3 separate regions of the Homo sapiens genome follow, and regions 2 and 3 are each linked to region 1. The links come from fine-mapping of genetic effects on gene expression. A gene starts in region 1. Each other region holds a variant in brackets. All regions are shown on one strand. Distances are from middle to middle.

Region 1 (10,326 bases):
CACCTATAGTCCCAGCTACTTGGGAGGCTGAGGTGGGAGGATCACTTGAGCTCAGGCGTTCCAGGCTACAGTGAGCTATGACTGCACCACTGCACTGCAGCCTGGGTGACACAACAAGACCCTGTCTCTTAAAAGAAAAATGGGCGGTGGGAAGGGGTCCAAAGGTAGGAAACAGGGATCAGTGAGAACGTCGCTGACCTACCCCCAGGCCAAGACCAGACTCACCCTCAGAGCCCAGTGCCAGTCTCCAGCCATATCCTTCACTTTGGAGCCTGCAATGTAGCCCAGACCACTGTGGGAGGGAGAGAGGGGAAAAAGGGGGGACAGCCAGTCAGTCCAGTCCCCCACACCAGGCCCTTCTGCCTTCCCCCAGGCCCCAGGCCCACTCACCTGCCCACCGGAATGGCAAAGTAGAAGATGCTGAGCATCCGGCTCCGCTGGTCGGCCACAAAGAGGTCGGCAATGAGAGTGGGCGCGATGGTGGAATAACTGGCCTCCCCGACCCCCACCAGGCCCCGGGTCAGGAGGAGCAGCCAGAAATGCTGGGGAGAGAGACCGGGGAGAGGTGGCACCCCAGCCTGCAACCAGCCTCCGGGCTACCTCACCAGCCCGCTCCCAAGAGGCAGCAGGGATGGCGGGAGATGCCTGGGTTTTAGAATCACACAGACCTGAGCTTGCATCCTGGCTCCACCACTTACTAGCTGCGATTTGGGGAAAATAACTTAACCTCTCTGAGCCTCAGTTTCCTCATCTGCAAAAGGAGGATAACAACAACTTTTCACAGAGCTATTGCAAGGACTAGACAATAAAAGGTCTAAATAAGACAACCCCTGCTTGCCTGGTAGGGGAAAGTTTTTTAATTTTTTTTTTTTAATGAATAAGTGACCTTAGATGGGAGTTTATGTGTCTACCAAAGGCACCTGAAGCTAAGGACGGGTACAGTCACCCAAGGAAAGTACGTAGGTCCTGGGGCTGAGGACAGAGTTCTGGGGTGGAGTGAGAACAGACAGAGGAGGCTTCAAAGGAACAAAGAAGCAACAGCCAGGGAGGCAGGAGGAAAGCCAGAAGAGTGTGGCATCGCAAAGGTAGGAGAGAGTTTCAGGAAGGAAGAGTGGGTCAACAGTGCCAGAGGCTCCTAGCATGAACAGGACCAGGAAGTTGGAGCTGTGTTTAGCAACTAGGAGGCCACTGTTAACTTTGGCAAGAGCAGGGTCCGTGGAGTGGTGGGAGCAGAAGTCAGTGGCAGCGCTCGAGGGGTGAGCAGGCGTGAGGAAGTGCAGGCAGAGTGATGGCATCTCCCCGGCTGCTCTTTTACCCACACTGGCACCACGCTCTAGGGGCCCTTCAGGAAGTCTGATCAGGAATGAGAGGAGGGAGAGAGGGCAGGCCAGGTAGGGTTTGGAGTGTTTAGGTATGGAGTAGAAGGAGTCAGTGGTCAGGGGAAGAGGGGATAATGGACAGAGAATGCTCTGGAAGAAAAGGGGAGGATGGGGTGGGGCAGGTTAACTCAGGCAAGGAGGGGTATAAAATGGCATGGACCAGGGAAACTGCAGGAGTCCCTGAGGCCCAGTCTGCCATAGCTCCAAGGAGCAGCAGCAGAGACTGACAGGGAGGGGGTGTGGGCAGAAACAGGAGCCAGCTTGGGGCCTCACCTCTCCGGGGATGAAGGATGACCCCAGTGTCACCAGGGACCAGAAGGCAATGCCCCCGCACATGAGATACTTCCGATTGTACCTGTCACCCAGGTAGCCAAACACAGGTGCCAACACCATGTAACTGGAGATGAACACTAGGGGGAAGCAGAGAGTCACAGCTCAGCCCAGGTACCCCTACCTCCCACTCCCACCCCAGCTGGAACCACTAAAGCACAGGAGATGCCTGCCTTCTCCTTACAGAATTCACAACACCCCCACATCCCAGCCTGAAGCCCATCAGAGCTTCCTGTCAGGCGGATGGTCCAGCTCCATCTTGAACACCTTTCCAGATTTCCCATTGTATAATGGATGGTCCCACTACTTGTCAATTCCTTCCACCTAGCCAAAACAAGCTCCAAACTCCATGCATACCATGGCTCACAATGCCCCTGTCCAATCTAGGCCCTGCCTACCTCTCCACACTCATGGCCAGCCTTTTTCCCTTCCTCTGTCTGCATCCCAATGGCCCAATTGTCAAGGCCAATACCACTAGGGGTTTAGGCACCTACTGCCTCCTCTATCAAGGACATTCTCTCCTCTCCCCCTGAAACTTCACAGAGCATAGTTCCTTCAGGTTCCAGCTCAGATACTTGCCCAGGGCCAAGGGTGAAGCATGCTGCCCAGGTGAGCACACATCCAGTACCTGACTCTCACATTTACTTTTTTCTCTTTTTTTTTTTTTTTTTTTTTAAACGAAGTCTCGCTCTGTTGTCAGGTTGGAGTGCTGTGGCGCGATCTCAGCTCACTGCAACCTCCGCCTCCCAGGTTCAAGCAATTCTGCCTCAGCCTCCCAAGCAGCTGGGACTACAGGGGCGTGCCACCACGCCCAGCTAATTTTTGTATTTTTAGTAGAGATGGGGTTTCACCATGTTAGCCAGGATGGTCTCAATCTCCTGATCTCGTGATCCACCCGCCTCGGCCTCCCAAAGTGCTGGGATTACAGGTGTGAGCCACAGCGCCTGGACTGTTTTCTGTTACATAACACTTATCCCTATGGGAAAACTGTCCCACTTTAGTTTAGCGTTTTACTGGCTGTTGCTGCCTCATGCATAGCGTACTATCAGCTCCCAAGGCAAGGTCCTTGCCTGTATTGGCCATGACTGTGTTTCTTTCACTTACTTAACACACAGCCTAGTGCAAAACAGGTGCTCAATAAGCATGTGAAGAGAGTGAATAAATCCGGCTGCCTAGAAAGAGCTGCTGCTCTAACTCAACAACTCTTCAGAGGTTTGAAGACCTTGCCCTATGATCCCATTCTCATTGCTCCAGACTTCACCTCAAATACCTCCAGTTCCTCATTGGCCTGGAGTAGAGAAAAGAACACTGCAAGACCTGGTTTCAAATTCCTGTTCCGCCTCCAACTGGTGGTGTGACCCTGGGCAAGTCTTAACTCTTCTCCAAGCCTCAGTTTCTTTATAAGCTGTAGATATCACTACCTACTTCCTCTATAAAATAGGAACAGTAACACCTATTTTTGACTGATAGAAGGATTAGAAGACAAGGGGCATAAAAGTTCTTCGCAAAGTCCTACAGGTGTAATCATCACTTCCTCCAGGCCTGGCACACAATGAGTACTCAGAAATGGTTGAGAAATGAATGAAGGATGGAAGGAAGAAAAAGGGCTTGGCTCTAGCTTTGCCTCTCCCACAAGTCCCAAAGTTGTGAACAAGTAAAACACACCTCTCCCCATTCCAGACACCCTCTCCTGCCTTTACTTATTTATTTATTTATGAGATGGAGTCTCGCTCTGTCACCCAGGCTGGAGTGCAGTGGTGCGATCTCGGCTCACTGCAACCTCTGCCTCCCGGGTTCAAGTAACTCTCATGCCTCAGCCTCCCAAGTACCTGGGATTACAGGCGCTCGCTACCATGCCTGGCTAATTTTTGTATTTTTAGTACAGATGGGGTTTCGTCATGTTGACCAGGCTGGTCTTGAACTCCTAACTTCAAGTGATCCACTCATCTTGGCCTCCCAAAGTGCTGGGACTACAGGCGTGAGTCACCACACCCAACCCTCCTGCCATTATTTACTGGGTGTCTACCATGTGCCAAACACTGCACTAGGCCCTTCACAGACAATCTTTTAGTTAATCTTCACATCAGTCCTAAGAGATGATTCGTGTTATTACTTGTTCCATCTTATAGACAAGGAAAATGAGGCTTAGAGAGGTTGAGTGCCTTGCCTACCATCACACAATAAGTGGAAGAGCTGAGATTTAAACCCAGGTCTGTCTTCACCTGGGTGAAGTTATACTTAGTTATACTAAACTGACTCCCTCTTTAAATGTGGTGTCCCGCTGACCCCCGAGCAACATCAGGGCCATCACCTCCCCTAACTGGCCACAAAACCTCCATTAATGAGCCCCTAGACAGGCCAGCGCGTGGCCCCACTTGAGACAGAACAGAAGGAGGAGCGGCTGTGTGACCAGGAGTGGTCCCCACTCACCGGTCTGGATGAGCCCAGAGCTACTGTCCCCGATGTTGAAGAACTGCTCGATGTCGGGAAGGACGCCTGAGGAGAAAATTCAGGATGGTCCGGCAAAGCAGCGCCACCCTCGGGACCCTGGCTCCCCTCTCCTAGACTATCTTCCTCCCAGAAGTGAGTCCCTACCAGCCACGGTGAAGCGGTCCATGTAGTTCAGGAGATTGATGTAGCACAGCACCGCCACTATGAGAGCCGAACGGCCGGGAGACAGGCCGGTGATGCGCTGCAGCCCCTCCTGGTCCGGGACCTCGGGCTCCTCGGACTTCGGGTTCCCCGTGGACCCTGGCAACCCCGGGGTGCCAGGCACTGGCCCGTCGTCCGGGTCATCCGCCTGGCTGAGGAAGGGCGCGGTGTCGGACCCGGCCATGGTCCCGGGGGGCCGCGCCCGCCCGCGCTCCGGTCCCACCGACGATCCCACCTGCGAGGGGAGGAGGCTGGAGAAAGGAGGATGGACCGAACACAGGCGAGGGAAGTGCGCCCGGAGACGGGGAGCTTGCCCTGAAGCACAGAGCACCACTGAGAAGGGACCCGGGCCCTGTCACGCCTCCCCGTCTCAGTAGACACACAGCGCGGAGGGGACGTGCGGAATACACGTGATGTCGGGGACAGGAGCGGGCTGAAGAGGGCACGATCCCACGCGGAGGCCACCCCTCACCCGGGGTAGGAGCCCGCTGCACTTGCTGTCGCTCAGCCCGGGCGCTGCACCACGGCAGCCGCCATGTTGCTTAAAGCCGGTCATGTGACGCGGGAGCCAGGGTGGAAGGGGTCCCCGCGGGCAAGCCTTCGACACGTGACCTGCCACCCGACTACGGAAGCCTCTTGGGCGTTCCGCCCGGGCTCACATGTCATGTGACGGCCGGCCGGTCGCCGGAGTAACCAGGAACTTTCCCAGACCCTGCGGTCCCTGGAGCGTCAAAAAGAGCGTCCCCGTGACTAGGTGGAGTCGCCTGCCCTTCCGAATCTCAGCTGTCTTATCTGGAACCCCCACGTGGCAGACTCCATCTTCATCAAACGGGATAATGGGGTCTCAAAAGGTTTTGGAAGTAGTAGATACCTCTAAAAGCCAAGGAGCAGCCCTAGTTCTCGGGAACCATCCTGTCTTCCTCCCAGGGTCTGGTTGGCGGCTTTTTACTCTCAATAAAGGATGGATGGATGGATGGATAAATGGATGGATGGAGCTTGAGCAGCGCGATGGATGGAGGATTGGAGGGACGGAGGGATGGACGGACGGACGGATGGAGCTTGAGCAACGCCCCGCCCTTTGTTGAGATTCCCCAACCCTGCTAGCCTTGTAAACTCCTGAGCCTTCACCGTGGACACTTAAATACCTATTAAAGGAAGCGTCTCCACCCGCCGCTCCTGGAGCATATTTTTCCTCACTCCAATCGGGATTGGAGCCCTTGCGCCCTCCGGTGGGCTTTTGTAGGGCAGGCAGGAGCTCCTAGCCTAAGGAGACTCCCAGCTGCAGGACTAGGGTCAAAGGGATAACTTGGGAGTGGTTCTTTAGTGGCACCCTATAATCTCCAAGCTACATCTAATAAAGCACTCTAAGTAAAATTAGTATAGTTCTGTGCAAATACAGCTTCAAGACCCATCTTTCAACCAGCCCTTAAAGGCCCTCTACTGAAATCCTGGAATCTCGTGGGGAGAGCATCCCCCAACCCCAAAACGCCTTGTTAGAAACTATTTCGAGTCCGAATACCCATAATTGGCTTTAACCCCCCCCCCCCCCCCATATTAGGTGCCTCGTGTTTCAGAACCTTAAGCTTGGTTTCCCCTGGCGGACAGGAACTTCAGGTTGCAGGCATTTAATTCCCTCAACAAGATATTATTGAACATGTATGTGCCTGGCATTTTACCAGGTTTCAGGGAAAGGCAGACTTACTCCCTTCCCTCGTGGAGCTTATCTAGAGAGTGATACGCATTGTAAATTGCACCTCTGAAGTGAAAAGGCAAGCCACAGGTTGAATGAAAATATTTACAAAGCATCTATCTGCCAAAGGACTTGTATCCATGTAAAGAACTCTTTTTTTTTTTCTTTCTTTCTTTTTTTGGAGACAGACGCTTGCTCTGTCACCCAGGCTGGAGCTGGAGTGTAGTGGCGGGATCTCGGCTCACTGCAACCTCCACTTCCGGGGTCCAAGCGATTCTTGTGCCTCAGCCTCCCAAGTAGCTGGGATAACAGGCACGTGCCACCACACCCGGCTAATTTTTTGTATTTTTGGTAGAGATGGGCTTTCAGCAGGTTGGCCAGGCTGGTCTTGAACTCCTGACCTCAAGTGATCTGCCCGCCTCAGCCTCCCACCGTGCTGGGATTACAGGGGTGAGCCACCATGCCCAGTGTCATTTTAATTTTTATATTTGTAGAGATGAGTTATCGCTATGTTGTCCAGGCTAGTCTGGAACTCCTGAACTCAAGCAATCCTCCCACCTCATCCTCCCAAAATGCTAGGACTACAGGTGTGAGCCACTGCACCCAGCTCTTTTGTCCATTTTAAAAATTGTGTTTTTGGCCAGGCACAGTGGCTCATGCCTGTAATCCTAGCCCTTTGGGAAGCTGAGGTGGGAGGATCACTTCAGCCCAGGAGTTCAAGATCAGCCTGGGCAACAAAGCAAGACTCATCTCTACAAAAAAACTAAATAAATAAAAATTAAATATACACTTCCCATATGACCCAGCAATTCCACTCCTAGGTAACCACCAATGAGAAATGAAAACGTGTCCAAACAAAAACCTGTATATGAATGTTCATAAATGCATTATTCATAATAGCCCAAAAATGAAAAGAATCCACATGTCCATCAACAGGGGCATAATCTATTCATACAACGGGAATAGCTTAACAAGAAAAAGGAATGAACTGTCAGAGACGTTCGGACCAGAGTGACTCCATCTTGAGTGACGGTTAGGAAAATAAGGCTGGGACTTGCTGGACTGAATTACAGAAAGTAAGGCATTCCTAGACTCGACATGTTTATGGTTAAGGAAACAATAACGTTTACTAGGCCGGGCGCAGTGGCTCACGCCTGTAATCCCAACACTTTGGGAGGGCGAGGCGGGTGGATCACAAGGTCAGGAGTTCAAGACCAGCCTGGCCAAGATGGTGAAAACCCATCTCTACTAAAAACACACACAAAAAATTAGCCAGACGTGGTGGTGGGCGTCTGCAATCCCAGCTACTCGGGAGGTTGAGGCAGAGAACTGCTTGAACCCAGGGGGCAGAGGCTGCAGTGAGCCGAGATTGTGCCACTGCACTCCAGCCTGGGCAACCGTGTGAGACACCGTCTCAAAAAAAAAAAAAAAAAATTAGCCGGGCATGGTAGCACACACCTGTAATCCCAACTACTCAGGAGGCTGAGGCAGAAGAATCACTTGAACCTGGGAGGCAGAGGCTGCAGTGAGTTGAGAGAGCACCACTGCACTCCCACCCGGGCAACAAGAGCAAAACTCCATCTCAAATAATAATAATATAATGTTTACTAAACAGACCCAGACTTGGGAGTGTCCAGATATCCCAATATATGGAGAACAAAGCATTCCTAATTTTGCTTTAAAGATAACAATATTGATTCTTGCTAAATATAGTAATTAAGAAAATTAGCCGGGCGCAGTGGCTTATGCCTGTAATCCCAGCACTTTGGGAGGTCAAGGCAGGCGGATCACGAGGTCAGGAGTTCAAGGCCAGCCTGGCCAACATGGTGAAACCCCATCTCTACTAAAAATACAAAAATTAGCTGGGCATAGTGGCGTGTTCCTGTAATCCCAGCTACTCAGGAGGCTGAGGCAGGAGAATTGCTTAAATTGGGACCCAGGAGGCGGAGGTTGCAGTGAGCCAAGATCGTGCCACAGCACTCCAGCCTGGGCGACAGAGCGAGACTCCATCTCAAAAAAAAAAAAAAAAAAAATCCTTTATCACAAACCCTTGTAGCAGAGCACATCTCCCCATATATATGAGTCTTGTACATAAGGTGGATGCCTTCCCCTTCTTACTTTCAGGAATGTCCTACTCTGTCTATGGAGTAGCTGTACTTTCACCAGTTTACTTTTTTTTTTTTTTTTTTTTGAGACGGAGTCTCACTCTGTAGCCCAGGCTGGAGTGCAATGGCATGATCTCAGCTCACTGTAACCTCTGCCTCCCAGGTTCAAGTGAGTCTCCTGCCTCAGCCTCCCAAGTAGCTGACATTATAGGCCCCAACCATCTCGCCCAGCTAATTTTTGTATTTTTAGTAAAGATAGGGTTTCGCCATGTTGGCCAGGCTGGTCTTGAACTCCTGACCTCAGGTGATCCGCCCACCTCAGCCTCCCAAAGTGCTAGGATTACAGGTGTGAGCCACTGTGCCCGGCCCAGTTTACTTTCTTAATAAACTTGCTTTTACTTCACACTGTGGACTCACCCTGAATTCTTTCTTGCACGAGATCCAAGAACCTTCACTTGGGGTCTGGATCGGGACCCCTGTCCTGTAACAGAACTACTGATACAAACGCAGAAACATTGTGTTAAGTAAAAGAAGCCAGACACAAAACACTGCATACTGTTATTCCATTTATATGAACATCCAGAGAAGGCAAAAGTAAGGTGACAGAAAGCAGATTAGTGGTTGCCTGGGGTCATGGGCAAGAGAAGGAAACTTTTGCACAACCGTGTACATCTACCAAAACTCACTGAAGGCCAGGCATGGTGGCTCATGCCTGTAATTCCAGCACTTAGGGAGGCTGAAATGGGAAGATGTTTGAGGCCAGGAGTTTGAGGCTGCAGTGAACTATGATTGCGCCACTGCACTCCAGCCTGGGTGACAGAGCAAGACCCTGTCTCTACATAAATAATTTTTTGAAAAAATTCACTGAACTGTATGCTTAAAATGAGTCAATGTTTAGGCATATTAATTAAACTACAATAGGCCGGGAGTGGTGGTTCACGCCTGTAATCCCAGCACTTTGGCAGGAGGATCACTTGAGTTCAGGAGTTTGAGACCAGCCTGGCCAACATGGGGAAACCCTGTCTCTATTAAAAATACAAAGATTAGCCAGGCGTGGTGGTGAACACCTGTAATCCTAACTACTTGGGAGGCTGAGGCAGGAGAATCGCTTGAACCTCACTGCAGAGGTTGCAGTGAGCCAAGATCGCGCCACTGCACTCCAGCCTGGACAACAGACTGAGACTCCGTCTCAAAAAAAAAAAACAAAGAAAAAACCAAAGAAAATATCATTCTGGCTGCAGCATGGAAGATGGATTTGAGAGGCCAGAGGGGAAACAGCCACCCGTGAAGCGGCTGTGGCACTAGCCTAGGCTGCAGGCAGTGGTGGCTTGGCCTAGGACAGCATGGAGACGGGCAGAGGGAGCTGATTTGGGAGGGAGCTGGGGCTATTAAGTTGAACGGGTGATGCAGTGGGTGTGGGGGATGAAAAGGGATCAAGAGTGAAGCTTTTCTGGCTCACGCAGAGATGGATGATGCTGGGATTCTTTGAGACAGGAGTTTAATCATTCAACAAACATTTGTTAGGATACTACTGTGTCAAGGTGTCAGACACCAAGCAAGAGACTTTTTTGAGATGGGGTCTTGCTCTGTTGCCCAGGCTGGTGTGCAGTGGCACAATCACAGCTCACTACAGTCTCGAACTCCTGGGCTCAAGCAATCCTCCCACCTCAGCCTCCTTCCTGAGTAGCTGGGACTACAGGCATGCACCACACACTTGGCTAATTTTTTTTATGTTTGTAGAGATGGGGTCTCACTAGATTGCCCAGGCTGGTCTGGAACTCCTGGCCTCAAGTGATCCTCCCACCTCAGCCCCCTGAAGTGCTGGGATTACAGGCATGAGCCACTGCGGCCCAGCCAAGAGATTTTTAAGAAGAGTTTATTTTCAAGGAACTTACAGTCCCATAGGGAAGCAAAACCTGGATGCGTGGATGGGTGTACCAAGCCAGACTCCAAGCAGAGGTGGGACACACAAAAGACAATGTGACCAGTCCTACGAGGAGCCTTATGGAAGAACTGACCCTGAGTTGGAGGGGGTGACAGGGGTAGGGAGGTGGGAGACAGTAAAGGCATAGAGAAAAAAAGGCAAAATGGTATGTTGCAACTTCAAGTATGATCAGCTACATTGCCATCACTTGGGACCTTGCTGGAAATGCAGCATCTCACGCCCCAC
Region 2 (10,326 bases), 200 kb before region 1:
AGAATCCATTTCCTACCTTTTCTGGCTTCCAGAGGCTTCTGTATTCCTGGGCTCATGGTGCCTCTGATGTCACCACGACCTCTGCTTCCATTGCCACTGCCTGCTGCTGACCCTCCTGCCCCTGACCTCCCGCCTCCCTCCTACAAGGATGCCCGTGATGACCTTGGGCCACCCAGATGACCAGGATGGTCCCCACCTGGAGGCCCCTTGCTCAGTCCCATCTGCACAGGCCCTACTGCCGTGGGAGAGGCACATAGCAGGCTCCGGGGACCAGGACGGGGGTGCCTCCCAGGACCTCTTTCCCAGGCTGAGCGTTTCATAGCAGGCTCCGGGGACCAGGATGGGGGTACCTCCCAGGGCCTCTTTCCCGGGCTGCATGTTTCTTTCCTAGTCCGACTCCTGTCTTCTAACACTGGTTTTGGTGTCTTTTGTTACACAACTGCTTTAACTTCTTATGTAACTGAAGACGTCCATCTTGTCCTTTTTGGGATTAGAATTTGGGGTAGAAAGTCTTTTCCTCCACCGGAATTATACAACTATTCCATTTTTCTTCTTTTAAACTTTTTTTGCAATTTAGCGGATTTATCTGCACAGAATTTATTGTGTCCGTAAGGTGGGGTTCTAACTTTGTTTTTCCAGATGGTGGATTGATCGGCCCAACGATGCCTTTGAATGATTCTTTCCTCTCTTTCAAACATGACCAATTTCCTACATTAAATTCTCTTGTAAATGGCCATATGCTAGACTTGATTTTTTTGTTTGTTTGCTTTTTGAGACAGAGTCTCCTTCTGTCACCCAGGCTGCAGTGCAATGGCGTGATCTCAGCTCACTGCAACCTCTGCCTCCTGGGTTCAAGCGACTTTCCTGCCTCAGCCTCCCAGGTAGCAGGGATTATAGGCGCCCGCCACCACACCCGGCTAATTTTTGTATTTTTTAGTAGAGGCGGGGTTTCGCCATGTTGGCCAGGCTGGTCTCGAACTCCTGACCTCAAATGATCCACCCACCTCGGCTTCCCAAAGTGCTGGGATTACAGGCCTGAGCCACTGCACCCGGCCTCAATTTAAAATCCACTTATCTGTTTCTATACTGAAATTCCTCCTGGATTAACACAGTTTTAGAGTATATTTTGGTAACTAGAAGGGCAAGGCCCCCGGCTTTTCTGCAGGATCTTTGAACATCGTGTCTCTCACGTTCTGCCTGCTCATTTGTAAATCAGTGTTGTCACAGACTTTCCATGCTACCCCCCGATTTCTACATGGCTCCGTCCTGCTTTCCTCCGTGCTACCCCCGGATTTCTACATGGCTCCGTCCTCCTTTCCTCCGTGCTACCCTCCGATTTCTAAATGGCTCCGTCCTCCTTTCCAAATATTTATTCCTCCGTATTGTATTTCCCTGGCCACTTTTCTTACCAGCAATCTTACACCTTCCATTTAATATAGCCAAAGTTTTTTTTTTTATGACTATATTTTTCATTTAAATCGGTTCTGCCACTTCAATTCCAAATCCATTTCTTTTGCTCCGGACTTTCATTATGACTCCCTCTTTTGTATTAAATAATTTTAGATAAACACATGTATTTCCTGCTGTTCAATTATTCCCTGTCTGCACAGTGCTGATTGTGTGTTCACTGCACTTGATCCTGACAGTTCATTTCTTCCTGTGACTGTTTATTGGAGCTCAAACTCGGTAGGAGTTGTTCTGTGTATCTTTTGTTGTTGATGCTGTTGTTTGGAGACTGTCTCATGAATGCTGGGCTGAGGAAATGTCCTCATTTACCAGATCCTCTGGCCTGGGGTTCTGTGAATTTCTTTCTTAGGGATTCTGTGCTGTGCCAACCATGCAGTCACCAGACTCAGGTGTCGAGAAGGTCTGGAGATTCTATTTCTTACGGGAAACTTCTTTCCTCTACTCAAAGCCTGGACAGACAGCAATTTTCCTCATCATGTCCCCAGGCCAGGGGACAAAAAGGTTTCAGATCCACTTTTCACAGCAATTTTCTTCATCACGTCCCCAGGCCAGGGGGCAAAGAGGTTTCGGATCCACTTTTCACAGCAATTTTCCTCATCACGTCCCCAGGCCAGGGGGCAAAGAGGTTTCGGATCCACTTTTCACAGCAATTTTCCTCATCACGTCCCCAGGCCAGGGGACAAAGAGGTTTCGGATCCACTTTTCACAGCAATTTTCCTCATCACGTCCCCAGGCCAGGGGACAAAAAGGTTTCGGATCCACTTTTCATAGCAATTTTCCTCATCACGTCCCCAGGCCAGGGGGCAAAAAGGTTTCAGATCCACTTTTCACAGCATGTGCAGTTCCTTGGGGCTCTGAGCCTCCTGGCTGGGCTCATCCCAGCTTCCAGCATGTGGGATGCAGAGCAGTCTCCGCTCTGACACTCGTCACAATTCTCAGGGTCTCCGAAACACCCTCTCATTTCACTCTTCATTTCTAGTCCTGAAAGCTTTCCCTGTCTTTCTTTCAAGCTTGTCTATGAACTTAAAATGTTGCAGGTTACATTTCACCCAGAATGTCTATGTGTTTACAGTGGGAGAGGGTCCCCTCTGTCAGCACAGCCTAGAGTTTCACCAGAGGCCTCCCTCTAGCATTTTCCAGGCAGCCGAATGGTGAATAGCTGAATAGCTGTGCTCACACTGCTTATTTCTTTTTCTTGTCTTATTCCTTTGGTGATGACCTCAGATACAACATAGAAAAGTAGCAGCAAGGCCGACACCCTTGTTTTGCTACTGACTTTAGTGGAAATGCTTTAAATGTGTTTCCATTAGGAATAATATCCTATGCAAGTTTATGAAGTTAAGAAGGCTGCTTTTTATGTCTAGTTTACTGAAATCAGGAAGAGATGAATTTGGTCACATGGCATTTTGAATGGATTCAGAGGTTAATCTGGTGGTGGGTTGTTATGTTCCTTTGCAGAATCAACCTTGCATGACTACAAATGTCCCTTTTATTCAGACACTGCCACATAAAGTTTACTAATATTGTATCTAGGGGCAGATTCCTTTTAAAAAGATGACTTTTCTACTATTCAATCAGGCTTATGTAGAAGGAAGATGAAAATTAGGAGGTTTATGTGTTATGTTATTCCAAGAGGTAAGGAAGCTAGGGCTATGACTCTGTGTAATCATCCCTTGACAACCCACTGGGCGCTCCCAGACAGGCACATCCCCTGCCAAGACTTTGGTGTGGCATTTGGGAAAGTGGGGTGAGGGCAGGGGAGGGGCCAATCCCAGCACTAGGACATGGTTTAAACAGGATTGTGATTAGAAGACAAACAACAGTGAACTCTTGCCAGTGAGTAATGATTCACCAAGTACTACAAAATTATGGCTGAGTTTGGAATAGTAAAGTCCCTGCTCTTGGATGCCAAAAGAGTCCATGGAACATTCTAGAATGTGATAGTTTCAACACACCTTGATAGTTTGTGTGTCTGATTACATGGTTCTGCTGTCCAGCGTCACAGACACTGAGTGAGACGGGCACTCCCTTGGACCGGGAGTGGTGGAATGCTCCGTGATGGGGTGAAGGCCACACCAGCTCCTCTCCAGGCTCTGTTGTTGCTTTAACCCGGCTCTATCGTCTTGGGCAAGACAGCACCCCTACAGCTTTCCAATCCCATCTTCCTCTTCCCACCCTCTGTCTCCCTGGGCTAGCCATGGTCTCCCAGCCAAATCTGCAGACCCAGGGCTCTGCACCTCACATTGCTCCCTGAGCCTTGACCATGCCTTGTATCAAACATCTTTCTCCTCCTCAGTTGTAAAGAAGCTCATCTTCTAAAGACTACAATAACCCCTTGGCTGTCTTTCCCTTCCCTCTTGCAATGAGTTACCATGGCTCATAGCATAGTTATACACACACAGTTATATGCACACATGGTGGTATGCGTACATAGCTGTGCACACACTGTGGTGGTATGCACGCATAGCTGTATTCATGCACAGTTGTATGCATGTATAGCTGTATACATGCATGGCGGTATGCACATATAGCTGACACGTGGTTGCATGCATG[T/C]GTGGAGTATGCACACAAGGTCATATGTGCACATAATTGTATACATGCATGATTGCATGCATGCATGGCTGCACACACATGGCTGCATGCACATATAGCTGTCACACACTTGGTTGTATGTACACAACCGCACACATGGTGGTATGCACATATGACTGTTTACAGTTACACACGTCTGTATGCATGCATAGCTGTACACAGGCTTGGTGGTATGTACGCACAGCTGTATGCACACATGGTTGTATGCACACGTGGTTATTGCATGCAAGGTTGTATGTGCACATGGCTGTATGCACACATGACTTGCACACGCATGGTTGCACACACATGGTGCTTGTGTGGTGGTATGCTCACATAGCCATATGCACACATGGTTGTACGCACACATGGCTATATGCACACACAGCTGTACATGCACATGGCTGTATGCATCCATAGTTACATACATGCATGTCTGCCCAAGGATGCTGAGATCTTTGACTGTGGAGGACAGAACTTATCTTTGCATCCTCCCCTCCCAGTGGCCAGGCTCACGACAAAGCCCTCCACAGTCATCATTCAGGTACAAACTGCACCAACCTGAGCACTCACCCAGGCCCTGCCCTGTACTGGGCATGCTCGGTACATGAGAATCATCTAATCTTCTCCAAAAAGAAGGCAGAGCTGGCAGGATGGCAGCTGGGGACAGACTCGTAACAGGCACGAGGCAATCTCTGGATGAGATGAGCCATCAGACGTCCATCGTTCAGGCTCCAGGCCTCCTCTTTGAGTAATTAGCAAAATGTCAATGGGCCCCCACGGGCAGGGCCCACGCTACATCTGCTAGCTAGGTTTATTTGTGAAGGGCACACGATACAGCAAGTGCCGCTGACCAGGAGCACACAACTCATTCATCTAAATGTTCTAAAACCCATCTAAAACCCTGGCCTGGGGTTACGAATAGCCAGAAATAGACCCTGCTGCCGCCATCTGGACCCAGCCTCCTGGCCAAGCCGGAGACAGCTGCAACACGCCATCCTCAAAGCTCAGGACAGCTGCATGCCTTGAACATGTCTCTGCTTTATCCCAGCAATCTAACAAAATGAAAATCAGAGTTGTGAGAAGGACATCTGTGCCTGTAGGGCGGGCCGGATGGGATGAGGAGGAGGAGGGCAGGGGCCAGGCTGGAAGACAACGCTGGAGGTGGCTCTATCCTCGCAGCCTCCCCAGCGCAGAGGAACCTGACTTAACAGCAGTGGCTTACATTTCACAACGGCTCTGGCACTGCTGTCCAGCTGCACTTTCATAGGTCCAGGGACTAGGACATGGACAACTGGGGGACCTTTGTCCAGCTGAACACATAGAATAAAACATGGCTGGCTCGGCACGGTGGCTCACGCCTGTAATCCCAGCACTATGGGAGGCCAAGGTGGGTGGATCACGAGGTCAGGAGATCAAGACCATCCTGGCTAACACGGTGAAACCCCATCTCTACTAAAATACAAAAAATTAGCTGGGCGTGGTGGCAGGCACCTGTAGTCCCAGCTACTTGGGAGGCTGAGGCAGGAGAATGCATGAACCCAGGAGGCAGAGCTTGCAGTGAGCCGAGATCAAACCACTGCACTCCAGTCTGGGCGACAGAGCGAGACTCCATCTCAAAAAAAAAAAAAAAGAATAAAACATGGCCAGCTTCACAGTGAGATCCCTGAAGACAGATCTGTGCCTGTGGATCACGGGTCCCAGCACCAAGCCGGTGTCGCTGAGGAACCGAATGCCCAGGAAAGAGGGGCCCCGGGTGTGGGTGCTCCTCTGGGTGTGAGTGCTCCCCTGGGTGTGGGTGCTCCTCACCAACAGCTAACGTGTGGGGCCTTCCTGTGCCCCAGCCAAGGTGACACGAACACCCCAAGTTTTCACCCCTCAGGCACCCATGAGATGGCCCCTGCCCGGGAAGCAGCCACAGGCTGGCACTGTTGGCCCAGATCGACCCTGGCCAACCCCGTCCATCTGGAGTCAGCCCCATCTGGCGGTGTCACTGACAACAGAGTCAACCAGCCCCAAATTCTCCCCAACAGATGACTTCTCAGTGAGCCTGGAATTCCAAACATTGAGTAGCAGAACAAAGCAGATGACAAATGATGTGTGCCAGAGAGGATTCCTCGGGGGAGACTGGGCTCGGCCAAGAGGCCTTGTGAGATAAAGGAGGGGAGAAATGAGGACACTGAAGATTTACAGAGACGATTCCTTCATAGCCCTGCCCCACGGAATGCTCGGGTCCCCAGGCCAATAGGCTTCTGTTCCAGATGCCAGCAGGGAGTGCCGATTCTTCCCAGGTGGTCAGGAGCCCCTGCTGCCCGGGGCCTCACCCTGGCTTCATCAGCAAGGCAGGCACATGGCGGGGGGACTGACCCCTGTCCAGGAGCTGCCTGCAGGGAGGAGCGGCCTGGGGACTTTCTTTTGAAACAAGATGAAAACTCTGATGAAATGAATCAGTTAACAGAGAGAAAAATGGCAATGGGTATATGGCAAGGAGTAAATATCCTCCATATAGAAAGAGCTCTTATAAATCAATGAGGAAAAAACAAATCCATTTAAAATTTTAAAATAATATACACTGGCAATCAGCCAAAGAAAAAATGCAAACAGCTGTCCATCCTAACTCACAATCCATGACACCAGCTTGCTCGAGGCACAGGCCAACTGCCAGGCGGCAGGGATTTACAAGTGTGGCAACACCCTGCTGTCAGGGTGAGGAGGCGGGCACACCCACACGGGGTCGGCAGATGGAAATGGATGCAGCTTTTTAGGAGCTTCTTGGACATCCGCCTGGCTTTTAAATGTGCTTATTCTTGATTCTGTAATTCCACTTCCAGGAACTTATTCTAAATAACTAATAGATACATATGCAAAGATGGATAAGTGAAGACATGCATTGCAACATGGCTCATTGCAGAAAGTAACTACACAGAATGATCTAGACCCATCCATAAGGGGTTTGTGAAATGGATGGTGGTGCATCCACGCAGACCTCTCTGTCCTCCTCACTGTGTCCCCAGCTCCCAGCACATGGTTCCAGCACACAGCACGTGGTTCGTAAACGTTTGCCCAAAGAGTGAGTACAACAGTGCACCGTGCAGCCATGAAAAGGAACAAAGCAGTGTGTCCCAACGCAGAAGGATGGCCACAAAATACCACCGGGTGGAAAAAGTGGTTATAAAGCTAAATGCCAAGGGCTGCCCATTTACATGACAATACATTCAGAAAGATGATGCTCTAAACCTAAGTACTGGGATCACTGTGATGATTCCATTCATTCATTCATTCATTCATTCATTCATTCATTGTGACAGAGCCTCGCTCTGTCGCCCAGGCTGGAGTGCAGTGGCGCGATCTCAGCTCGCAGCAACCTCCACCTCCGGGGGGGTTCCAGTGATTGTCCTGCCTCAGCCTCTTAAGTAGCTGGGATGACAGGCGCCCACCACCACGCTCAGCTAATTTTTTGTATTTTTAGCAGAGACGGGGTTTCACCATGTTGGCCAGGCTGGTCTCGAACTCCTGACCTCAGGTGATCCGCCCACCTCGGCCTCCACTCCCTTTGTAACCTGGTGCCGGTGAAGTCCTTGAGTGCTGCACCCTTGGCTTCCTTTCCCCACACACCGTGGTTTTTAACTGCGCCATTCTGCCTGCGTGGTGGTTTCTAGGGACGCCGATATCACGTTTTGGCAGAACCGACTATACCTGCTGTGTGCGGCATGCAGTTTGTCCAGAGCATACAGCGAGACCTCTCTGAAGACCCCCAAATGGCCTCGACCCCGGCTTTTGAGGGAGGGCTGGACAGCTCAGCCTCCCGTTTCCTGCGCACGCACCCCGATGCTGCAAGCTGCCATCTGGGAGGCTTGGTATTCGGGTTAGAGACAAACAGCGCCCGACGGTAATGGTCCTCGAGCCCAACTCTGCCGACCCACGCATTCAGTTTAGTCCTCTTAATGCAGATCTAGAAATGGTTTTTCACTGAAGAGAAAACTACAGAAACTTCTGCCACCACAGGACCAGGACTTGATCACAAGCAAGAAAAGCTAAGTCTGAAACTGGTAACTTTTCCAAACCAAAGACCAAAGCATGCCAGGATTCCCTCAGAGGGGCTTTGGTGGCTGGTGTGGCAATAGCCTTCTTTTTCTTTTTTTCTCTTTTAGACAGAGTCTCGCTCTGTGGCCCAGGCTGCTGAAGTGCAATGGCACGATCTTGGCTCATTACAGCCTTGATCTGGACTCAAGTGATCCTCCCACCTCAGCCCTCCTGAGTAGCTGAGACTGCAGGCGTGTGCCACCACATCTGGCTTTTTGTATTTTTTTGTATTCTTAGTAGGGATGGGGTCTCCCATGTTGCCTAGGCTGGTCTCAAAATCTTGGGCTGAAGTAATCCTCCTACCTCAGCCTTCCAAAGTGCTGGGATTATAGGCATGAACCACCACTCCCAGGCAGCTTCAATTTAACAAAAAATATATTTATCACCTATTGAATTCCAAGCACTGTGTTGAAAGAGGGTAGGACCCCAGATAAAGAAACAGATACTTGCATAAATCAATGCAATGCAATATAGAACTTGTAGCAAAAAAAACCGGTATGTGCAAAGTACAGAAGCAGAGGACAATGAGTTCTGTCTTCTCGGCTCCACAGATTCCAAGGAAGAACAGAGGCAGTGACAAGACTCACCGAGGACCTCCTGCCCACCAGACCCTGCCGAGAGGCTGCCATGATGGCTCACCAGAGGCCGAGATGACCCTAAGGCTAACCCCACTTTAAGATGAGGAGCCTGAGGCTCGTGTTAGTTTGGTTCCTGGCATGACGCTGTGGCAGGGCTGGGGAGCTCATCTCTCTGACCCAGAGCTCACGGGGATGAGCTCCAGTTGGAATGAATGAGTCAGGTACTTTTTGATAGTTGGAAGTTAACGCTTTATCACTGCATTACCGATTGTTTAGGAGCTCAGGCCCTTCCAGGTGGAGCACCCTCTAAGCAAAGTGTAAAGTGTTCTGAACCACAGTGGCGCCACTTCATGGAGGATCGATTGTATTTGAGGGTTGGAGGGTGAGAACAGCAAAAAATAATAATTCAACCAGTTGGTTATTATGAACATCATTTTCATATTTTTAAAAATATGCTATATCATGGAATTCAATGTAAAACCTCAAGAGATGCCATCCTTGGAGAGGGCTGCACCAGCCTGTGCCCCAAGTTACCCAGGATCACCCCCTACTTCTCCTGACGGCCCCCCGAGAAAGGCCTGCATTCTGGGCGACGTGGCCTTCAGGGGCTCAACCCTTGGCCTCGAGAGGGGCCACCCATCCTCAGCGGCTCAGGCATCTGTGCTGGTGCTGTCTCGCCATCTGGGTCACCCAACAGCTGCCATCCTCTGCCCTTCTCCCAGGGCCCAGGGAGTAATTCCCATAGAATTCACACAGACTAGAGGCCGGTGGGCCGAGACCTAAACAGGGGCACAGCCCCTCCTGTGCAGAACCCTGGGCCTACACTCACTGCTGTGGCCGCCGGCACAGGCAAGCCTCATGCCTGTGTGTCCTGGAGCTTGGTTCTGGGGAGGTGTTTTGGGAATAAACTCTTAGATCTTCAGTGTTGGGCTGGTCCTTCACAGTCTCCCTCATTTAACTGAGGTGAGGAGACAGCAAAACCCTCTGGAAATTTGGAGTAGGTGTTGCTTCAAGAAACAGAGTTTTCCTTCTAAACACAGTTCTTGTTGTCACCAAATCCAACCTTCTTCATCTCAAATACAGAATTCAGATGGAAAGGAGGCCACCCCACCCTCAGCCCAGTGCTCAACTCACACAGCAGCTCCCAAGGTAGAGGCGAGACAGGGCAGCCCCAGGCCCTCCCTGCCGCCTGCAGCACTGACGGCGCTCATCACACCAGCCTTTCCACTCTCAACAAATGGTTTCGCCGTATCTGAATACCGCCCTCCTCCTCCCGCCCCAGAATGCTGTTCACTTATCTTTCTTTAAACAAATTTTCTCATAAACTGCAATGCAAGTATTGAGAAATCAAACTTGATATTACTACTGTAAAGGAAAAATCAGAGTCGACTGACCAAACAGAAAGTCGCCATAAAAATGAAAGCAGTGAAATCAAGGCGATAATATTCTATTCTAGTGAGATCCTGGAAGCCAGGGATTCGTTGCTGAATTCTATTAGACATTTAAGGAAGAGAATGACGTCAAACTCATACAAACTTCTTCAGAAAGTGAAGGAGGAGGGACTGTTTTCCCATCTGTGTTATGAGGCCTGTGACGCGGACAACGCTGGAAAGAACCTGCAGGCAAC
Region 3 (10,326 bases), 210 kb before region 1:
GAAATCATTAGACGGCGGCTTGTGTCAGAAACACAAAGCAAATCACCCTGGCTGCGGCCTCCCTGGCAACTCTGCAGTCCTTCCGACCCTCGCCTTCCCAGAAAGGGACAGTTTCTCTAGAAATGAAGAGAGGGAAGTGATTTACCAACTGCTAAGTAATTCTTACATTTAAAAAAAATCCATCCAGAGGCCCAGGTAGGGGCAAATGGTTTTTTCCAATTAGTACAGAGGTAGCTACAAAGCACCACAGAGCCCGCCTGTGGACGCCGGGACACTGTCAGGGCTGGCACAGGGGGGCTCAACAGAAGACCCAGCCAGGGACAGATTCCACAGAGAGGCAACCAGCGGGCCAAGCAGACATCAGCAGCACGGATCCGGGACCGCGGGGGCAGCCAAAATCCACAGCTGCCAAGGCCCCGGCCCCAGCCTCGGCCAGCACCATAGACGGAAAAGCAGCTGCGCTCCCCCAGCCCCAGAAGAAACCCTGCAGAGGAGTGTTGGAGAGCTATGGAAACCAGAGCGTGTCTGTAGGCTGCTCATGGCTGCCCATGACTTTTCCAACGCCAAAGCCCATCTCAGAGGGCTACGCGTTAGGGCCAGAGCAAGGTGGGGCCTGGTGCAGAATCTTAGCCAAATGGTGATTTTTTCAACACATTTAAAATGAAATCTTCCTTTCGCTACAGTTCTCAGAATTGTTTTTGCATCCACAGCCTGAGACGCCTGCCCTCCTCCGCCCATGGCCTCACCTCCAGGCCATCTTCTCCAAAGCCAGCTCTCTCTGTGGGGCTTTCCCCACACCCTGCCCCCAAGAGCTGAGACGCAGGCGTTTCCATCTCTTCTGTTTAAGAAGGGAGTATCTACTGCTGGTGTGGGAACATCAGCTCCTCCGCAGAAACATCTTTTACACAAGTATTTATTTATCAGAAAAGGGTTTTCTGAGTTTCTGGGTTCCCATGACTTTGTTGCTCAGAGCAATTCTGCACTTTTGCTGTGATGAATGCTGGGACGTCTTTACTAAGGTGCCTTAAAAATTGCTGGAGGCTTCCTGCCAAAGCCTGGGCTCAGGTTCTTAGGAGCTGTAGCTTGCAATTCAGAAGTGGCCGAACGAGGATCCTTCTCGACCAGCAGGTTGGGTTACGGAGAACATTTACAGCAGCAGCCAACTGAGGGTGCACACAAGTATTGTTTGGTTTTAAAAGAATGATTACGATACTAATGGTGCCTACCAATCCACACGGAAGACACTAGAAGCAGTGGTGTGAGGCACACAACTATATTAACAGCAAAGGACTGCAGCAGACGCCACCCTGGCAGAGGTCTCACCCAGAGCCCTGCGCATCTGTGGACTTTTGGACAGTCGCTTACAGGTGAGCACCGCAAAGCGAAATTGGTTGGAAGCAGGGAGAGTCTGCGGCCATTTCTATCCCGCCGTTCCATCGGGAAACACTCATTCTCTGACACGCAGCCGCCCAGCGCTACCCGGCTTCCGTGTTTTAAGCTTTGGCTGAGTCACCGAACACATCAGGCTGGCTGACCACGTGGACGCTCCCGGCTGACCACGGCCCACGCCCGTGTGATCTGGGGTCGTCCCGGCTGACAGTTGAGGCCTGGATGAAGCCCATCTGCTGGGTTTGACAGTCGGCACCAGTCCCCAGGCGGCCCCTGAGGGTTCCTGTTTCAAAGAATAAGACTTTGTTTGCAGAGGGGCTGCCTTTGGGCTGAGCCGGCGGAGGAGCTCAGCTCGCTGAGGTCCCAGAAAGCTGCGCCCTGTGGGGCTTCACCTGGACGGGTGCTGGCTCTGGAGTCGCGTGTCACTTCTGTGCCATTTTCATTAGTGAGTCGTAAATTACACGTAAGCACTTTCTTCCTGGACTTCTTTGGACAATACTTTCAAACTCCATGGCTCCAAACCCCTTCCCGGGGCCTGAGGAATTCAAACCCCTGTCTCTACCCTCAGTTTCCCCACCGTGGCGAGAGATGAATGACGTGGCGCAGAATTCCACAGCCTGCCTACCGGAACCCCACGGCGCTTCTACGGCCGGGCCAGTTTCATGTTCTTCCTTAGAGGCTGCTTCCTCAAAATTAGCGACCTCCCAGCCCCCGTCCTGAGTGTCACCTCCCAAAGTCCGGAAACTCAAACCTGGAAAGCTCAAAGCTCCCGAATCGGCCCCACCCAGTCCTGGTGCTTCCTGTTCACGGCACTTTTCCCAGGCCGGCAGGATTTTCACCGTGGGGTCCAAAGACCACCTGCAGCCAGTCGCCTGAAGGGCTGATTCACAATGCAGCTTCCTGGGCACTGTTCCAGGCACTGAGAGTCCACCCACAAAGGGGGAGCAGCTATTTGCTGTCAGCAACCCCTCCGGATGACCCTAACACCCACCTGAACGTGGAGGCAGCTCAGAGGGCAAGTCTAGATTTTACCCAGATGCTATGGCTTGCCCTTCGAAATATTTATACAAAAACCAAAAAACAGCTGTAACTGAATCCAGAGAGGAAAACGGCTCTAAATTGATTTTTGCAGCACATTTTTTAGTTTATTTGTTTGGTTTTTTTGTGTTTTGAGATGGAGTCTCGCCCTGTCACCCAGGCTGGAGTGCAGTGGTGTGATCTCGGTTCACTGCAACCTCCGCCTCTCGGTTCAAGCGATTCTTCTGCCTCAGCTTCCCAAGTAGCTGGGATTACAGACATTTACCACTACACCCAACTAATTTTTGTAGTTTTTAAGTAGAGACGGGGTTTCACCATGTTGGCCAGGCTGGTCACGAACTCCTGACCTCAGGTGATCCACCCGCCTCGGCCTCCCAAAGTGCTGGGATTATAGGCATGAACCACTGCTCCTAACCAACAAATGTTTTTTGAACCCAATGATGTGCTGGGGGGCTGTGCCCCTGCCTGACAGAGGTAGGCAACACCTGGAAAGTTCTATGGGGAGCACAGCAAAGCCGGAGGATGGCAATGCCTGTCCACCTGGAGAGGAGGGGCATGTGAGCAGGGCTTTGAAGGATAAGTAGGAGTTCACTGGGGGCAAAGGAGTTTATAGACCAGTTCCTCAGCCTGTTTTCTGACGAGAAACCTGAGACTGAAAGAGGGAAAGAGAGCCTGCCCAGCACGTGTCAGGGGTAAAGCTGCAGCCAGGAGGTGAGGCCCAATGCCCCGGCATCATCCGTGTCTCCGGGAGCTGCTGTCCTGGCATCATCCATGTCTCCAGGAGCTGCTGGGGGTGCGGGGGGTTCTTCAGTGGTGAGACCACGGTACAAATCAGTTCCCTTGCTACTTTTGGACTGAGTGCAAGACTCGCCCACTGCTTGCTAAACTCCACTCCCCAAGCCGCAGCCCTGCAAAGGGTGTCAGGAGAAGCAGAAAGGGTTGTTCAGGGATGCGCCCATCTCTACACTCAGGCTGCGGTTGCACGGAGACAGGGCGGGAGAGGCGGGGGCCGACAAATGGCCTCTGTCAGGACACAGACACCGGCCCGACAGATAAGGGGCGGCTGGACGGCTTTGGTCTTTTCCGTGAAAATGAATCCATGGAAATCTCTCCCGCCCAGCACTCACCAGGGGAATTATCTCTGGCTGAGTGAAGGCCGGAGAGCCCACGGAGGTCTCCCATGTGGCCTGTGCACATCTCTTTCCAGGAATAGCACAAAGAAGCGGGACTGGCTGCTGTCCTTCAAGGAGAATGTTCCACAATATCAGCTGATGTGGTACCAGGAGACCTTGTGTGACCTTGGAGGAAAGACTGTGAACTCAGCTTCTGACTCTGAACAATGACAAATGAACCAGGCCCAGCCCCTCCTGACCCCAGGGAACACAGGTGGCTTTGATTTAATAAATGGAGCAGGCACAAAGACAGCCAGAAGGGCCTGACCTCACCCTTGAGGACGTGCTACGGTGGCCCGCAGCGAGGGTCCCTGCCACCAGCCACGGCCAGAGCACCTGCCACATGCCAGGCACTGTCTGAGTCCTGAGGACCCTGCAGCATGTCCCACACATGAACCCCCCTGGCACAAGAGGTCATGGCCACACAAGGGGATGCTCAGCTCCATGCCGGACTCAGGCCAATGGCCCAGTGAGAACAGAGTTGGCCCCAGCACGACACCTCCCGCCAGCCCAGCCCCAGAATGATGACAGCCTCACCGCCACCAAGGCAGGGTGGTGGCAGATGCCCGAGACGGGGTTGCCAAGCCCAGAGGGAGGAGCCCATCCAAGGCCCGGATCCGCTGACAGCTTCTGGAAGGGTGTTTGCCTCAAGGACACCAGTGACCTGGGAGCTCAGGGAACCTGGAGAAAGGGTCCCATGAGCTCAAAGGAGCTGCAATTCACAGAGACATTGGTGCCGCAGCCAGGCTTCCACATTGCCCCTCTGGCCAATTGTGCCCCACAGGAGACCTCCTCCCTTAGGATTCATGATTAAAGAAAGACCTCACAGAGTGGGACGCTGGTGGGAGGCACAGCGCCGGGGCCAACTCTGCTCTCCTTGGGCCATTAGTGTGTGTCCAGCATGGAGCAGGGCATCCTCTTGTGTGGCTGGACCTCCTGTGCTGGGGCATCCATGTGCAGAACATGCTGCAGGCCCCATGGGGGTGGTGGAGCTGGGAACGAGGCCCCAAGGGAGTCTCTGAAGGAGCAAAACACCACACGCCTCTGCCCCTCAGAGGGGCAAGTTGGTGAGTGAACACACATTGATGCGTGGGAGGAATTGGGGGAAAGCCCCATTGCAGGCTACAGAGCAGGGTGCAAAGACAGGTGACCGCCGGCGTACACACAACAACGAAGGAAGCCGCAATTGCTGCCCCCTGGAGGCTGCAGAGCGGGGTGCAAAGACAGGTGACCACGGGCGTACACACAACGACGAAGGAAGCTGCAATCGCTGTCCCATTGCAGGCTTCAGAGTGGGGTGCAAAGACAGGTGACCGCTGGCGTACACACAACGACGAAGGAAGCCACAATCACTGCCGCCTGTGATTTCTCTTCGACACTCAGGGGTCCCTTCCATAGGCTGTGGTTTCTCTTCGACACTCAGATTTCCTCCACATGGGATATTCTCTGAGCTCAGCCGTCTGGTCAGCTGCGCATGGGCTGTGGAGGGCAGGAAGCCCCTGTGATGACCGGGAGGCCAGTGTGCATCCAACATGCTCACAGTCTAAGGGGTATGTTGGAATGGCCCAGGGTTGAGCAAGCAGCTGCCCGGGGACTCCCTAGCTGGCAGGGGGCACAGCATCCCGTGAGCACATCACACCCAGCAGGTGCTCTGCGCACTGGCCTGGAGGTCCCCACCTCCTCCAACTCACAGGCCCCTCCCTGAGAGTGAAAGCAGCCTGGCCTCTCCTCCCAGCACTGACCAGAACCTCTCCTGGCTCCCACCCACACCCCTGGGGGCTGGGATTCCATCGGCCTGAATTCGCAGCCCTGGACCCCAGTCGGTGCTCCCCACCCGAGAGCTTCCTGTGTCTCCCACTGCTGCCAGAATGATGGCCACAGTCTCTGTGGCTAAAACAACATGGACCGACTTTGGCTCTGAAGGTCAGAGGTCGACGTGGGACTCCAGTCTCCCTGGGCTACGGTGAGGCACGGGCAGGCTGGCTGCTCCCGGAGGCTCCAGGGAAGAATCTTCCCCATCTTTCCAGCTTCCCAGGCCCCTACATCCCTTGGCTCGTGGCCCCTCCTCTGCCATCAGAGCCAGCTGCGTGGCAGCTCCAGTCTCTCCGTGGCCTCGTCCTTCTGCCTTCCTCTTCCAAGGACTTGAGATGACAGGGAATCCAGGGTCCTTTCCCTGGAAAGGGAACCTCAGTCACATCTGCAAAGTCCCTTTTGCCACGTGAGGGCACATGTTTGCAGGATTCAGGGATCAGGACATGGATGCCTCTGGGGCTGTTATTCAGCAGACCCCTCCTGACGTGGGGACAGTTTCTCTGAGCTTGAGACACCCCCAGGAGGCCACCCACGCTGTACCGTGCTGGAAGCCCCACTGCCCTCTCTTCCAGCGTGCTCTTCTGGCCCCTTCAGCCTTAGTCCACCCGTTGGTCACGTTCAGCCCCAGGGGTCCCTTCCATCCTGGCAGCCCCGTGAGTGCCCTGGAGTCCCTCCCGCAGGCCCTTCAGACAGCAGCCCCTTCTCTCAGGTGCAAATGGATCTCATGGGCTGGAAACCACCCTTGTGCTGTGTGGAGGGCCAGGGAGAGGTGTAAGGAATG[C/T]CCCCCACAAATGCACAGCACACGGGAGCAGCCGTCCCCAGGGCAGAGACTGGAGACGGCGGGAGAGAAGAGCTGTCCCCATCCCTGGGGCTTCTGCTTCGGGCCTTGGCCACCAGATTCTTTCCCAGGAGCCCAGAAAACCCCATGGGGGCTGAGACTGGGGGGAGGGTGCCGCTCTCCCCGGGCCTCACCTTAGCTCCGTGCTGCACCTGGGGGCGGGCGTGAGACCCGGGTCCACAGGAAAGAAGGTTCCAGCCACGGCTGCCACTGCAGGTGGCATGGCTCCTCCTGACCCCAGAGAACACAGGTGGCTTTGATTTAATAAATGGAGCAGGCACAAAGACAGCCAGAAGGGCCTGACCTCACCCTTGAGGACGTGCTATGGTGGCCCGCAGCGAGGGTCCCTGCCACCCAGCCATGGCCAGAGCACCTGCCACGTGCCAGGCACTGTCTGAGTCCTGAGTCTAGTCACGCGGGCCCGGGTGGGTCGTGGTGCCGCTGGTGCATGGATGCCTGAGCAGCCTGGACTGTGCCCAAGGAGCTGGTGGTTCCAGGATTACAGGCAGCAAGGAGGGGTGCACAGCCAGGGCGAGCAGTCAGGCCCTGCACTGGGCACCGTGTGGAGGGAGGCAGTGTTGGATGAAGCTGCTGTTCCTGTTCTTAAGCCCAGAAAACACAAAGTGGCCCAGTCTCCCAACACGGGACTGCGAGGCCGGCTGGGAAAATTCCAGCTTCTCGGCCGCTTCCCAGAGGCTGGACCACTGGGCCCTGGTCTGAAGGCCCCATCAGGACACTCACCACTCATCACCCCACATCTGCCACCCACTGCCCTCATGGCCTCGGGCCACAGGAGGCTCTGGCGGCAGGGGGAGCCCGTCCATCTCCCAAGCATCCTTCTGCAGAGCAGCTGCCCAGCACTGGGGGCTGGGGCACCACCCTAAGCCTGCAGCGAGGGGGCAAGAGGCCCCCTGGGATCGGGAATAAGGAGGATGTGAAAGCCCAGCCAGGACACAACATCCAGCTCTGGTCTTCACTGGGCCCCTAGGGGAGCCAGAGAGGGGAGCTCTTGCCAGAAGCAATTAGAAGCCATTTGGAAGACCAGATCTGGCAGCAGAACCGCCGCCCTGGGCCCATTGCAGGCGCCTCTGCACCAACAGCGGCAAACCCAAGAGGGCAGCTTGGCCTGGTGAACAGCGGCCAAGCACGAGGCTCGCAGGGGCTGGATGGCAAAGCTAGTGCTGTGGGATTCCAATGCGTGAGTTTGAGAAAGGCATCTGGGATTTGCCACCAATAGCCCAGTGGGAGGGGAGGTGGGGGGAGCAGAGATAGCACGAGGGGCCGTGGTGCTGTGGCCCAGCCCCAGGTGGCATGCATTCATTATGTGTGTGTGTTTGAAATGCTCCAAAATAATTGCTTTTAAAATGCTAGTCGGTTGACTGCAAAGCTGTTTCCTTGAACATGACGCATCACCCTTCCCTGGGACTTAAGGTCACTTAAGTTTAAAGATTTTTTTTTTTTTGTAATCGTTAAATAGGCAACAATGGGCCGGGTGCAGTGGCTCATGCCTGTTTGGGAAGCTGAGGTGGGCGGATCATTTGAGGTCAGGAGTTCGAGACCAGCCTGGCCAACATGGTGAAACCCTGTCTCTACTAAAAATATAAGAATTAGCTGGGCGTCATGGTGGGAGCCTGTAATCCCAGATACTCAGGAGGCTGAGGCTTGAGAATTGCATGGGCCTGGGAGGTGGAGGTTGCAGTGAGCCGAGATCACACCATTGCACTCCAGCCTGGGCTACAGAGCGAGACCCTGCCTCAAAAAAAGAAAAAAAAAAAAAGGCAAAAACAGAGCATGTAACTTCCCAAGATAAGAGACTCTAGAATATGGACACGTCTAGAAAACAAGGAGAAAACAGCTACAAAGCCCAGCATGTTGAACTTCTCACTTCACTGTCTGAGGCTGAAAAGCAAGGAGAGAGATTTGCCTTCTCCTTAGAGTTCAGGATTTCGCTGGGCCACACGGGTGATGACAGAGAGAACATATGTCTTAAAGAGGCTTTGGAATCAAAGGCCAAAAATTAGCCTAAAACATTTCAAATGCAGCACACACTGCGTCTGTGACCTCATCTGTCCTTGAAAATAGAAAAATGTGCCTCAAAGAGCAAGAAAAATCTTTAAATGTCACGTGTCACAGGCTGGGGTGGCTGGAGGGACGTGATGTCCTCCGTCCTCTCCACCAGGGCAGAGGCAGCTGGCGTTAATCACACCAGCCCCTTATCTCTGCCCTACCTCCTGACAGGACATGAGACAGCTACGTTGACGCCAGAGTCCTGTTTTATTCTGGTTACGGCATCTCGTGGCCAACACTGTGCATGGTTCCCGAAGTTAAACATGACCCAATCAACAAACAGACGTAGTAGGGACTGGCAGCTCTGCCAGGACCAGAGAGACACCCCCCGCCCTCCCCACACCTTTGGCCTTGCTGTGGCCTCTGTCCCACCGGCTGCTCACTGCCACAGGCTGGACCAAGCCTCTGCCTTGCTCTGGCATGGCCCCAGGCATACCTCCTCCATCCCCTCCTGTGGGGTGTGAGGCCACTCCCCACTCCTGTCTCCCCAGTAGGCGGGTTCTGCCTCCGACCCTGCGCTGTTTCCCCTGCGCCTGGCACGTGGCAGACCCTCGTAAACGCTGACGATGGGCGGGAGGAAGGGCAGATGGGAGGCCCAGAGCCAGGGGCTCTCGGTGTCCTTGCGAAGAGGAAGGCAGTGAACACAGGGAAATAGCGGCGGGTCCTTGGTCTGGTGCCGCTGGCCGCCAGCCAGGCAGACAAGTGAAGATGCAGGAGACACAGAGCCAGTGCATGGCCTGGGAGGCCACAGGGAGGACACAGGCAGGGGCCGCTCAGAGGACACATCCAGCCGGTACAGCTCCCCCCAAGGCTGCGACTTGTTCACAACGTTCCCTTAATTAGAGCAAACGTGTGTGATGTTTCTGACAAGCTGTCATCGTTTAACAGCAAGAGACAGATGTCAGACACAAAGGCAGCATTTTCACCCGTGTCTGACACATGTCAGCCCTGGGCCTGGGCCACCTCCTGGCTTTCTTCTCCCGCTGCAGGGAGATGCATGGCCATGGGCCACGTGTCGGGGGAGCAGAGGCCCGAAGGTGGGGGTGATCCCCACTTCCAGTTCCAGGCTGGTGGTTGCGTCTTAGGCGGAAGGAGTGGGGGGGCATCTGTATCCCCCCAGCAACAAGGAACACAGCCTCGGTGCCCCACCCTGCTCGGCGCCCCAGCCCGCTCTGCACCCCACCCCGCTAGGCGCTCCACCCGCTCTGGGCGGTGCCTCCTTAAGGCTGGAGACGGCCCTGAGTGCGTTAAGCACGCTAACCTATTCCATCTTCATGGTGTTGAACAGGTTGGAACTGCTGAAATCTCCATTGACACAGGGGGAAACTGAGGCACAAAATGATCAAGCACTTGCCCCTGATGCCATGACTGAAGAAGCCCCAGGTGGGCATTCCGTGGGCAGGGCCGCTGAGCCCCCCACCCCCCCAGGGCTTCTCCAGGTGAGGATTCAGTGAGTGCTCACCGGGTGTCGGTGAAGTGCCTGGGGCCCCATCTCAGCCTGTCTCCTCCCATCCTAATCACAGGCCAGTGAGGTGGGGATTGCCACCCCCAGTTTTCAGGCAGAGAAACTGAGACCTCTGCTTGCCTTTATTCCTGAGACTCTGATTCTGCCGCAGGGGCTCTCCCTGAGGGGCCCTGAGCTCTCAGGCCCCTGTGCGTGGAGGGTGACGATGCCATCCGTCCCACCCTTGTGGGCCATGCTGGCCCCAGGCTGCACATCCAGGTGGGGCTGGGGATTAAAGCCAGCACACAGGTGTGACCCACATCAGGGACCCTCGGGTGGGATCCACAGTGACGCAGCTGCTGCCGGCCGACTCCCCGCAGGGTGAGCTGATGAGCCTCCCCAAGCCTCAGTTTCCTCCTCTGTAAAACGGGGTGGTGACAACATGTGCTTTATAGACCGGGCAATAGAGTTCGAGCCCCAGGGCCACACCTGGCACATCACGCGTGCTCAGTAAACAGAAGCAGTTCTTCAAGCTCCTGAGACTTCAGGCTCACGCTGAGGTCTGT

The links. PIP is the estimated chance that this variant, and not a neighbour inherited with it, causes the effect.
Region 2: its variant is the best candidate, but not a certain one, in a credible set for the expression of SPNS1 in whole blood (TOPMed, PIP 0.52).
Region 3: its variant is the best candidate, but not a certain one, in a credible set for the expression of SPNS1 in blood mononuclear cells (TOPMed, PIP 0.74).

The regions. Positions count from the first base shown.
Region 1 is chr16:28,969,371-28,979,696 of GRCh38, reverse strand. It overlaps SPNS1 (SPNS lysolipid transporter 1, lysophospholipid), which reads right to left and starts at 4,919. Exons shown (of 12, transcript NM_032038.3): 1 at 4,305-4,919; 2 at 4,140-4,205; 3 at 1,653-1,789; 4 at 391-542; 5 at 226-292. The coding sequence starts at 4,545. RefSeq lists a silencer at 4,563-4,652, a cis regulatory region at 4,689 and enhancers at 4,605-4,774, 4,873-4,982, 5,063-5,182.
Region 2 is chr16:29,165,456-29,175,781 of GRCh38, reverse strand. No RefSeq gene overlaps it. Among named protein-coding and RNA genes, the nearest start is that of LAT, 190 kb to the right of the region's middle. RefSeq lists an enhancer at 8,904-9,404. The variant T/C (reference allele first, on the strand shown) is at 4,021.
Region 3 is chr16:29,176,483-29,186,808 of GRCh38, reverse strand. No RefSeq gene overlaps it. Among named protein-coding and RNA genes, the nearest start is that of LAT, 200 kb to the right of the region's middle. RefSeq lists enhancers at 1-106, 875-2,074. The variant C/T (reference allele first, on the strand shown) is at 6,193.